Linked DNA regions of Homo sapiens. The protein of the gene in region 2 interacts with the protein of the main gene of each other region in a pairwise test. Each region holds a gene or a part of one and is shown on either strand. Other genes may lie near its edges.

The links.
Region 1: the proteins of ZBTB8B (region 2) and CDC7 interact in binary tests that used the Homo sapiens proteins (3 or more experiments, as listed by UniProt).

The regions. Positions count from the first base shown.
Region 1 is NC_000001.11:91,503,851-91,507,350, forward strand, and holds part of CDC7 (cell division cycle 7-related protein kinase), read left to right. Parts: intron 1-3,500. UniProt on the Homo sapiens protein: Kinase involved in initiation of DNA replication. Phosphorylates critical substrates that regulate the G1/S phase transition and initiation of DNA replication, such as MCM proteins and CLASPIN.
Region 2 is NC_000001.11:32,484,728-32,490,183, reverse strand, and holds part of ZBTB8B (zinc finger and BTB domain-containing protein 8B), read right to left. Parts: intron 5,084-5,456; coding exon 4,766-5,083; 3' UTR 1-4,765. UniProt on the Homo sapiens protein: May be involved in transcriptional regulation.

The DNA of each region.
Region 1 (3,500 bases), about 59 Mb from region 2:
AAGAGAACCAGAATATGGGATCTTATTTCTGATCTCCATTTTTTTTAATATATATCTTGAATATTGCTCATGTAGTAAATATTCTACAACTGGATTTAAGGTCCATTGCATATTATATTATAATATATTCAATCACCTTTTACTATTGACCCTATAGATTGTTTCTATTTTTTCCTATTAAGAAAAATGCTGTAATGCACAAACTATCTGGCATAATATTGGTCAAATGTTTATTCTTTCACTGTTTTGGCAAGCTTTTTTTTTTTTTTTTGAGACATGGTCTCTCTGTCACACCACTGTCACTGGAGTGCAGTGGTGCAATTACAGCTCACTGCAGCCTTAACTCCTGCACTCAAGCAATCCTACCCCCTCAGCCTCCTGAGTAGCTTGGATTACAGGCATGTGCCGCTACACTCAGCTAATTTTAAATATTTTTTTTAGAAACAGGATCTTGCTATGTTGCCCAGGCTGGTCTCAAACTCCTGGCCTCAAGTGATCCCCTCCTATCTTGGCCTCCCAATGCACTGGGATTACAGGTGTGAGCCACCATGCCTGGCCAGTAAGCTTTTATTTTTTTTTAAGTATCTACTATATGCCAAGTTTTAATAAGTGAGAAAGATCTGTTCAGTGAAAGAATGATGTATAAACTCTATATTGAAAGTCTCCTCCATACTGGTGAACTCTACTGGAAGGAAGGCTTGCTTCATTCTGTTTGCTACAATGACACCCTTAGCCATGCTTCTAAAATGGGCTATGGGTACCATCTTTGTTTGCCTGGGACAGATCTAGCTTACGGCTATTGTCACAATGTAATTATTATTCCTGCTGCCTTTTCACTCAAGAGTGTCCCAGTTTGGGCTTATATTATGTATTATCCCCTAGTTCCAGGAGGTATAAACCAGAGAGTACATGAAGCCCCAGAATAACCATGACTATATGCCTAGAGTGTCAGTTTTAATCCATGACAAGATATTGAAAACGTTTCATTTATGTGATGAATATTTATTGTCTGTTATATACATGTACTTTTTTAGGTGCTAGGGATAAATCAAACCATAAAACAGAAATTAACACTGTGGTAGTTAGACAATAGACAGAGAGTAAACAAAAGAAGTAAATACTGTGCTCAAAAGTGATTAATGTTACTAAGAAAATGTAAAAGGGAAGGGGAGATAGGAAGTATTGGGGAAGGAGATTGTAATTTTAGTGAGTATGGTTGCTCATAGCCTTCTGTAACATTTGAGCTAAGACTTCAAGGTGGTGAAGGAGTGACCTGTGCAGATATTTGGGGAAGAGCATTCCAAACAGAGGAAACGGCAAGTACAAAGACCCTGAAACGGCAAGTACAAAGACCCTGAGATGGGAGTGTGCCTAGCATTCAAGAATAGCAAGGAGGTCATTGTGGCTAGAATGGGGAAGGTAATTGGAATGAAGTCAAAGAGAGATGTAAAGAGGCTTTCTAATGGAGTGAGATGTGAAACCATTAGAGGTTTTGAGCACAATAGTGACAAGGTGACTTAGCTTTATCAGAATACTCTGTTTAAACTCTGTTTGCTATGTTGCAAGCCGACTGGCTACTATGTTACAGATAGACTCCAGGCTGGCAAGGAGTGTAGTTAAGGAGACTATTGGTATATTAAAACCAACTTGGATATATTATGCAGCAGAAAACAAAAGTGACTTAAAATGTCAAAATAGAAGCCTAGACCTTCATGTATAAAATAGAGGCATTTAAATAATTTTTAGCATATTATAGATTTTCGGGATCCTCCTCCAGTCCTCAAAGTCTGTTTCATTTGTCTGTCTTTAGTACTGTTTTCCAGCTTTTGACATGAATGCACTTTTCTGCTTTCTGCTGTCATTTCCCACTTCAGAATTTGAGGATATTGCATTCACTTTGGTTGCCAGGAAGTTTTACTGTTGTTTAAAATTGTTGAAGTTGTTCTGAAGTGACAGGAAACCTTAATAAACATTTTGATTTTTGTAAAGAGGAGTAGATGCATAATAAGTGAGTAGTGGTGTGGAAGTACCCTTAATGTTTCTCCTCCCTTTCACATCTGTTCTCCACTTGTCATTTTTCTGCTTAAAAACTTCCTATAGCTTTCATGTGCATTCTCTCTTGTCTTCCTCAGCCACATTCTATTTCTATTATTGTTATTATTGTTATTATTATTGAGACAGGGTCTCCCTCTTCCATCACCCAGGCTGGAGTACAGTGGCACGATCATAGTTTAGTAACCTCAAACTCCTGGGCTCAAGGTATCCTTCTGCCTCAGTCTCTGTAGCTGAGACTACAGGCCCGTGTTACAAAGCCCAGCTAATTTTTGTTTGTTTGTTTGTTTTTTAGCTTTTTTAAGAGATAGGGTCTCAAACACCTGGCCTCAAGCAGTCTTCTTGCCTTGGTCTCCTAAAGTGCTGGGATTACAGGCCTGAGCCACCGCCCCAGGCCACATTGTATTTCATTGTCTCTCAGCCCTCCCCCTACCCTAATCATCCAAGCCTTTTTTTTTTCTTGTTCCTGTCTTTACAGACGTAGTTAATTTTTCCTAAAATGTTTTCTTCCACTTTCACTACTTGGTGAATGCTTCAGAACAAAACTTAGCTGTCAACTGAAGGCTTCCTATCACCTTCAGAAATCCTCCCCAACCTAGTAGTATATACATTCTTTTATTACAGGTGTCACCTTGTATTAAGAATGATAACATGTTTCCTTTACTAGACCAAGCTCTTAGTGGCTGCATCAAATTTATTGGTTTTTTTTACATACCCATTGCTGAGCATTTTTTAAGACAGCGTTTATTTAAATGAATTAGTTCTAGCCAGGTGCGGCGGCTCACACCTGTAATCCCAGCACTTTGGGAGGCCAAGGTGGGCAGATCACTTGAGGTCAGGAGTTCAAGACCAGCCTGGCCATTGTGGTGAAACCCCGTCTCTACTAAAAACACAAAAATTAGCTGGGCGTGGTGTTGCGTGCCTGTAATTCCAGCTGCCCATGAGGCTGAGGCATGAGAATCTCTTGAACGCAGGAGGCAGAGGTTGCAGTGAGTGGAGATTACATCACTGCACTCCAACCTGGGCAACAGAGTGAGACTCCATCTCAAAAAAGAAAGAAAATTAGAAAATATATATAATCAGCAACACCTCTGTGAAATTGGGCAAATGATTTAACCTCCCTGAATTGAGTTTCCTTATCTGAAAAATCAGGATAATCATTCCTGCTCTGCCAAGTTCACAGTACTGTTAGGAAGACCTCAAAAGATACTGCATGTGCCGGTGCTTTGAAAATGTCTTAAACTTATGCTATATAGGGCTAGTAGAGCCTAGATACTGTAATAAAATCTGAAGACTTATCTAGTTCTCTTCTGTATCCAGTAGTTTACTGGGTTTTGTATTATTGCCTCCCCTTGTTTTAACTATGTACATTTTTATAAAGAACTGATACTTATTTAAAAGTAGCAATTTATCTGCAGTCAAGGATAGAGGATACTACTGGCAATTGG
Region 2 (5,456 bases):
ATTCTCTTAATGCACAAGGGACACACACAAGAAAAATCTAGAGTTCCAAATAAAACAGTCTGAGTTCAGTTAACCAAAGGCCACTCCACTCTTTCCTACGGCTCCCAGAATCAGTGCATGCAGCCCTACCTGTTGCCTTTCTCTCCCTGGGGTTTGTCACGACATCAATGAACAATAACAAAAAAAACCCATCTCAGTATTCCAAACCACCAGAATACTCAATTCCATAACATGTTGCAGAACACTAGGTCAGCAGCTTCCTTAAGGAATATTCAAAGTCTGGTGGCCACCAAAATATTTACATCAGAACGGCATCTTTCTGCCAAATGATCAGAATCATGATGCACTATGTCATTTCTTAATTATTATAGGTAAGGCCCTATTTACATTCCTTCTCAACTTTTGAGAAGGGGGTCCTCATCCCCCAAGAGAAATAACTTCCCAAGAATGCCATTTTGGAATTCCATTACAAGTAAGAGTCCTGTTCCCATTCATGCAATACATCTAATATGAGACGAAAATATCCCTTTGTGAACTTGGGTGGAATGTGCCAGAATAGAAACTAAACCACTAACGGTCTGTGTTGGGCTCAACTGTAAATTTACTTAGTATAAAAATACCACCAACCCCACAAATTAAACCTCAAAGACACTGTGATTATAAATACTGACCACCTAAAGGGGACCAATTTATGATCTGATAGTCTAGACAGAGGAAGTATCTCCTTTAAAAGTGATAGAACTCAGTGATCCAGTTATTGCCAGTGCCTATACACAAACTCCAAATAGTCCACCAGAAATGCAACAATCTGAGATATTACGAAAGAAAGAGAATCATTTAAACATTAGGTGTCACATTCTGTTTTCTTCCCAGTGATTCTGCTACTTTAAAAATTAACAAAATGATCAGAACCTAGTAACGATTCTGGGTGTATGAATGAGTCAGAATTTTCTAAGTTTCCACATTATAAACCTAAATCAGATCTTGGGCAAGCTATGAACCATCTGGCCTCAGCGCTTCATTTTACTAATCCACTATTTTCTAAAATTTGCGAGAGTATAAGGGGCTACTAAATATTATGAAGGTCAGCCAGGCACGGTGGCTCACGCCTGTAATCCCAGCACTTTGGGAGGCTGAGGCAGGCGGATCACTTGAGGTCAGGAGTTCAAGACCAGCCTGGCCAACATGGTGAAACCCCATTTCTACTAAAAATACAAAAATTGGCCAGGCGTGGTGGCGCGTGCCTATAATCCCAACTACTCAAGAGGCTGAGACAGAAGAATCTCTTGAACCTGGGAGGTGGAGGTTGCAGTGAGCCGAGATCACGCCATTGCACTCCAGCCTGGGTGACAAAGATGAAACTCCATCTCAAAATAAATAAATAAATACATAAAATAAAATTAAAAATAAATAAATATTATGCAGGTAAAAGGTAGCTTAAAATAGAACACAAAATTAAGTCCACTCATTAAAGATCCTTTAAAAAATCCTACTTTATCTTACAGCAGAGTTTCTCAACATTGGTATTACTGACATTTTGAATTGGAGAATTCATTGTTGTGGGGACTGTCCTGTGCATTTCAGGATGTTTGGCAGCTTCCCTGGCCTCTACCCACTAGATGCCAGTAGCCACCTGCAAGGCACGAAATCACCCCCAACTGAGAATCACTGTCCTACAGTGAAATCTCTAATGTAAAATGTTTTACCCAGGGATATGAAGAGGTCACGGAATCACTGAAGAGGATCATAGCTCCACTGGAGAAAGCAGGCAAAGAGGCTGAACTATGAGGTAGAAAAGTCATTAAAACATCAGAGATAATTTAAACAGAGAAAGCAAAAATATCAAACACTGTTCCTGGCCAAGTAAATCTTCTACACATCCATTTAGGTTTCCTTTTTGCTGAGATCCCTCTTTTAAAATAACAGCAAATATATGTATACATTTTTGGAGACAGTTTCGCTCTTGTTGCCCAGGCTGGAGTGCAGTGGTGTGATGTCGGCTCACAGCAACCTCCGCCTCCTGGGTTCAAGCGATTCTCCTGCTTCAGCCTCCTGAGTAGCTGGAATTACAGGCATGCGCCACCATGCCTGGCTAATTTTGTATTTTTAGTAGAGACGGGGTTTCTCCATGTTGGCCAGGCTGGTCTTGAACTCCCGACCTCAGGTGATCCACCTGCCTTGGCCTCCCAAAGTGTTGGGATTACAGGCGTGAGCCACTGCGCCTGGCCACAGCTAGTATTTTTATTTCAGATAAGACAAATATCTCTGGTCCCTGATAATTTTCAATGAGTAACTCTTGATCTAGAATATTTTTCTTTTATTTATTTATTTTATTATTATTTTTTTGAGACAAGGTCTCACACTGTTGCCCAGGCTGGAGTGGAGTGGCACGATTCCAGCTCACTGCAACCTTTTCCAGGCTCAAGTGTTCCTCTCGCCACAGCCTCCTGAGTAGCTGGGATTACAGGCACATGCCACCACTCCTGACTAATTTTTGTATTTTTGCTAGAGACGGGGTTTCGCCATGTTGGTCAGGCTGGTATCGAACTCCTGACCTCAAGTGTTCCATCTGCCTTGGCCTCCCAAAGTGCTGGGATTATAGGCGTGAGCCACCGCACACAGCCAAGAATGATATTTATCGAACTACCTGTGATAAGAGAAGTTTTAAATTTTCCATTCTACTGCAGACCAATACGTGGTCCTGCTGTACAGGCTGGTATCCAACCTCTGCACCATGTGGCCCTCTAGCTGACCAGAACTGAACTGGTCCATACCTCACTCAAGAAGACAAAGCCATGAGTCACAGCAATGTCAAAGTGTTATCAACATTTCTATATGTGTATTCTTAATTTCTGACTTTCCTTGTAGCAGACTGGTAGAAAACAGTTTACAGAACAGGGCCTCTCTGTGGGCCAGAGTTTGAGTTGCACTGTTCCAGTTTTAACTACTATTGAGAAGTACGACTTAAACACCTGTCTAATGCTTTGGCTAACATTTACAAGCCAATTTATAATGTTTTTGACTTTTTTGTTGTTCAAGAGGTAGAAATAAAAGTGACTTTTACCACCTTTTGAAAGACAACTACACTTAAAGGAAGACAAGAAGATTTCTTTTAAAATCCATTTTGGATATTTTAACATAAGACAAAATTATGGAAATTGCCTTCAATTACATTCCGAATTCCTAACACTGCCTGCCCTTTAGCCCTTTAAAGAGTTCAGCCTCTTTTGTTACAATAATTGTGTGGCTGGAAAGTGGGCGAAAGGTAGACTGCTTTTAAAAACCTGTTCTGCTACTAACCTTCCCTTTCCCTCATGAAGATCTTTTAAAAGATGAACATTTTAGAAATGTTACTTGGCATTATGGGCTTATACTTTCCCTCCAATTAAAGTTCTAGGCAAGGAGGTAGAAGGCAGGACTCAACTCCAAAGGCCGGACTCGGACATGGACCAAATTGAGGACTAGCTAAAACAGGGCGGTGGTGGGAGGGTGGTGCAGGAAGCAGATTTCCATAAGAAACACTTATCACTGTGCCATGTCAATTACCATTGCCATGGCAACACCTGGAAGTCACTGCCCCTTATCATGGCAACCACCCAGCGGCTTGGAAGTTACCACCATTTTCCTAAATATTGCTGCATAATCTGCCCCTTAATTTGCATGTAACTAAAAGTGGGTATAAATATAAGTGCCGACCTGCCTCTGAGCTACTACTCTGGGCACACTGCCTATGGTGTAGCCCTGCTCCACGAGGAGCGGCCCCTTAGCTGCTGTTGGGCACTGCTGCTTCAATACAAGCTGCTGTCTAACACCACTGGCTTGCCCTTGAATTCTTTCCTGGGTGAAGCCAAGAACTCCTCTGGGCTAAGCCCCAATTTTTGGGCTCACCTGCCCTACATCAGCATAAACTAAGTAAAAGAATGCCAGAGGCAGCTACATTTCCAAGTTACACAGCTCCAGCTTTTGGAAATTGCTGGAAAAAGTAGGGGAGCATTTTGAGTTTTGCCCAAATGAGTTGTTTTATGATAACAGAACAGGTTGTATGTGTAGAATCGTCAAATGCCAAACCAGACAGGGAAACCATCCAGACCTGGGGTCATAGCCTCCCTTCTCAGGGCTAACTTAAAATTTAATTCAACTGGGCAAGTCAGGATGCCATAATGAGCCTTTCAGATCATTCCCATGTTCGTCTGCCCATAAGTATTCCAAGCCTTTAAAATTGTTCTAGATTTAGGGAGTACCTTTTATGATCATGTAGCCAGACCGCCCTGCCTGCTTTATATCAATGAAGGTTTCTCTTTAATACTTTGCCAGAAAATTTAATGTGGAATTCATTAGGAAAGGCTTGGCAAAGGTAAACTTGATCCCAAAACTTAATGGTTTTTAGAGAAAGAGGATGATAACAAAGGAATGCAGAGGACTGAATCAATATAAAAACAAGCCTGGAGATTTTCTTATCTTTCTCCTAACCAGAGTTTGGACACACAGCAAGAAAAACAGGAGACCTCAGGGCCTGCTTTGACTCACTCAGAATTAAGGAGTGGCCAGCAAAGCCCTCAGAAACCAAGGGCACCACACAAAAAGGTTATCTGTCCTTTGAGTCACAAAATCCAACCTCTATCAGATAGTCTAATAAAAATGCACATATAATAACAGTGAAAAAATGTTCCTCTCAGGGTTCCACAAAATTGGACAAATGGTATCTTTCAACAACAGAACGAGCACTAACAAGTTTTAAAACCTCCTCTTCCCCACCAATTTATTGCTACGTAAGTGTCTCTCGGTCTGATAAGTTAGGCTGAATTTGTGGTTTGTCATCAGAATCATCTCCAGCAGGGTCATTTTCCTCACCCGACTCCACATAGATTGGCCAGTCATTGTCTGTGTCGCTCTTTTCTTGGCTTTCAGATGAAGCCTCCACCAAGCTAAGGTTGATGGGCATCAAATCATCATCATCATCGGGTGTGTCTGTAACGCAGGTGCAGCTGTCACACAGCCCGAAGCGCCGCAGCCCCTGGGACAGGTGACTCGTGAATGTTCTCCTGCAGCCCTTGCAGATGATTGGACGGTTGGATCTGTGGACCTGTAATCACAAGCAGACACAGTAGATGTCACAGAAAAGGAGATGAGTGTTTTCCACAAGGCCCCGTGTGATCTGGCCCCTGCCTGATCCTCCCGATTCCTTTTTCAGCACTCCACCTGCATTCTCTGCCACAGTCTTTGTATTAGTCTGTTCTTGCACTGCTATAAAGAAATACCTGAGACTGGGTAATTTATAAAGAAAAGAGGTTTAATTGGCTCACAGTTCCACAGGCTGTACAGGAAGCATGATGCTGGCATCTGCTTGGCTTCTAGGGAGGCCTCAGGAAACTTACAATTGTGGCAGAAGACAAAGGGGGAGCCGGCACTTCACATGGCCAGAGCAGGGGGAAGAGAAAGAAGGGGGAGGTAACACA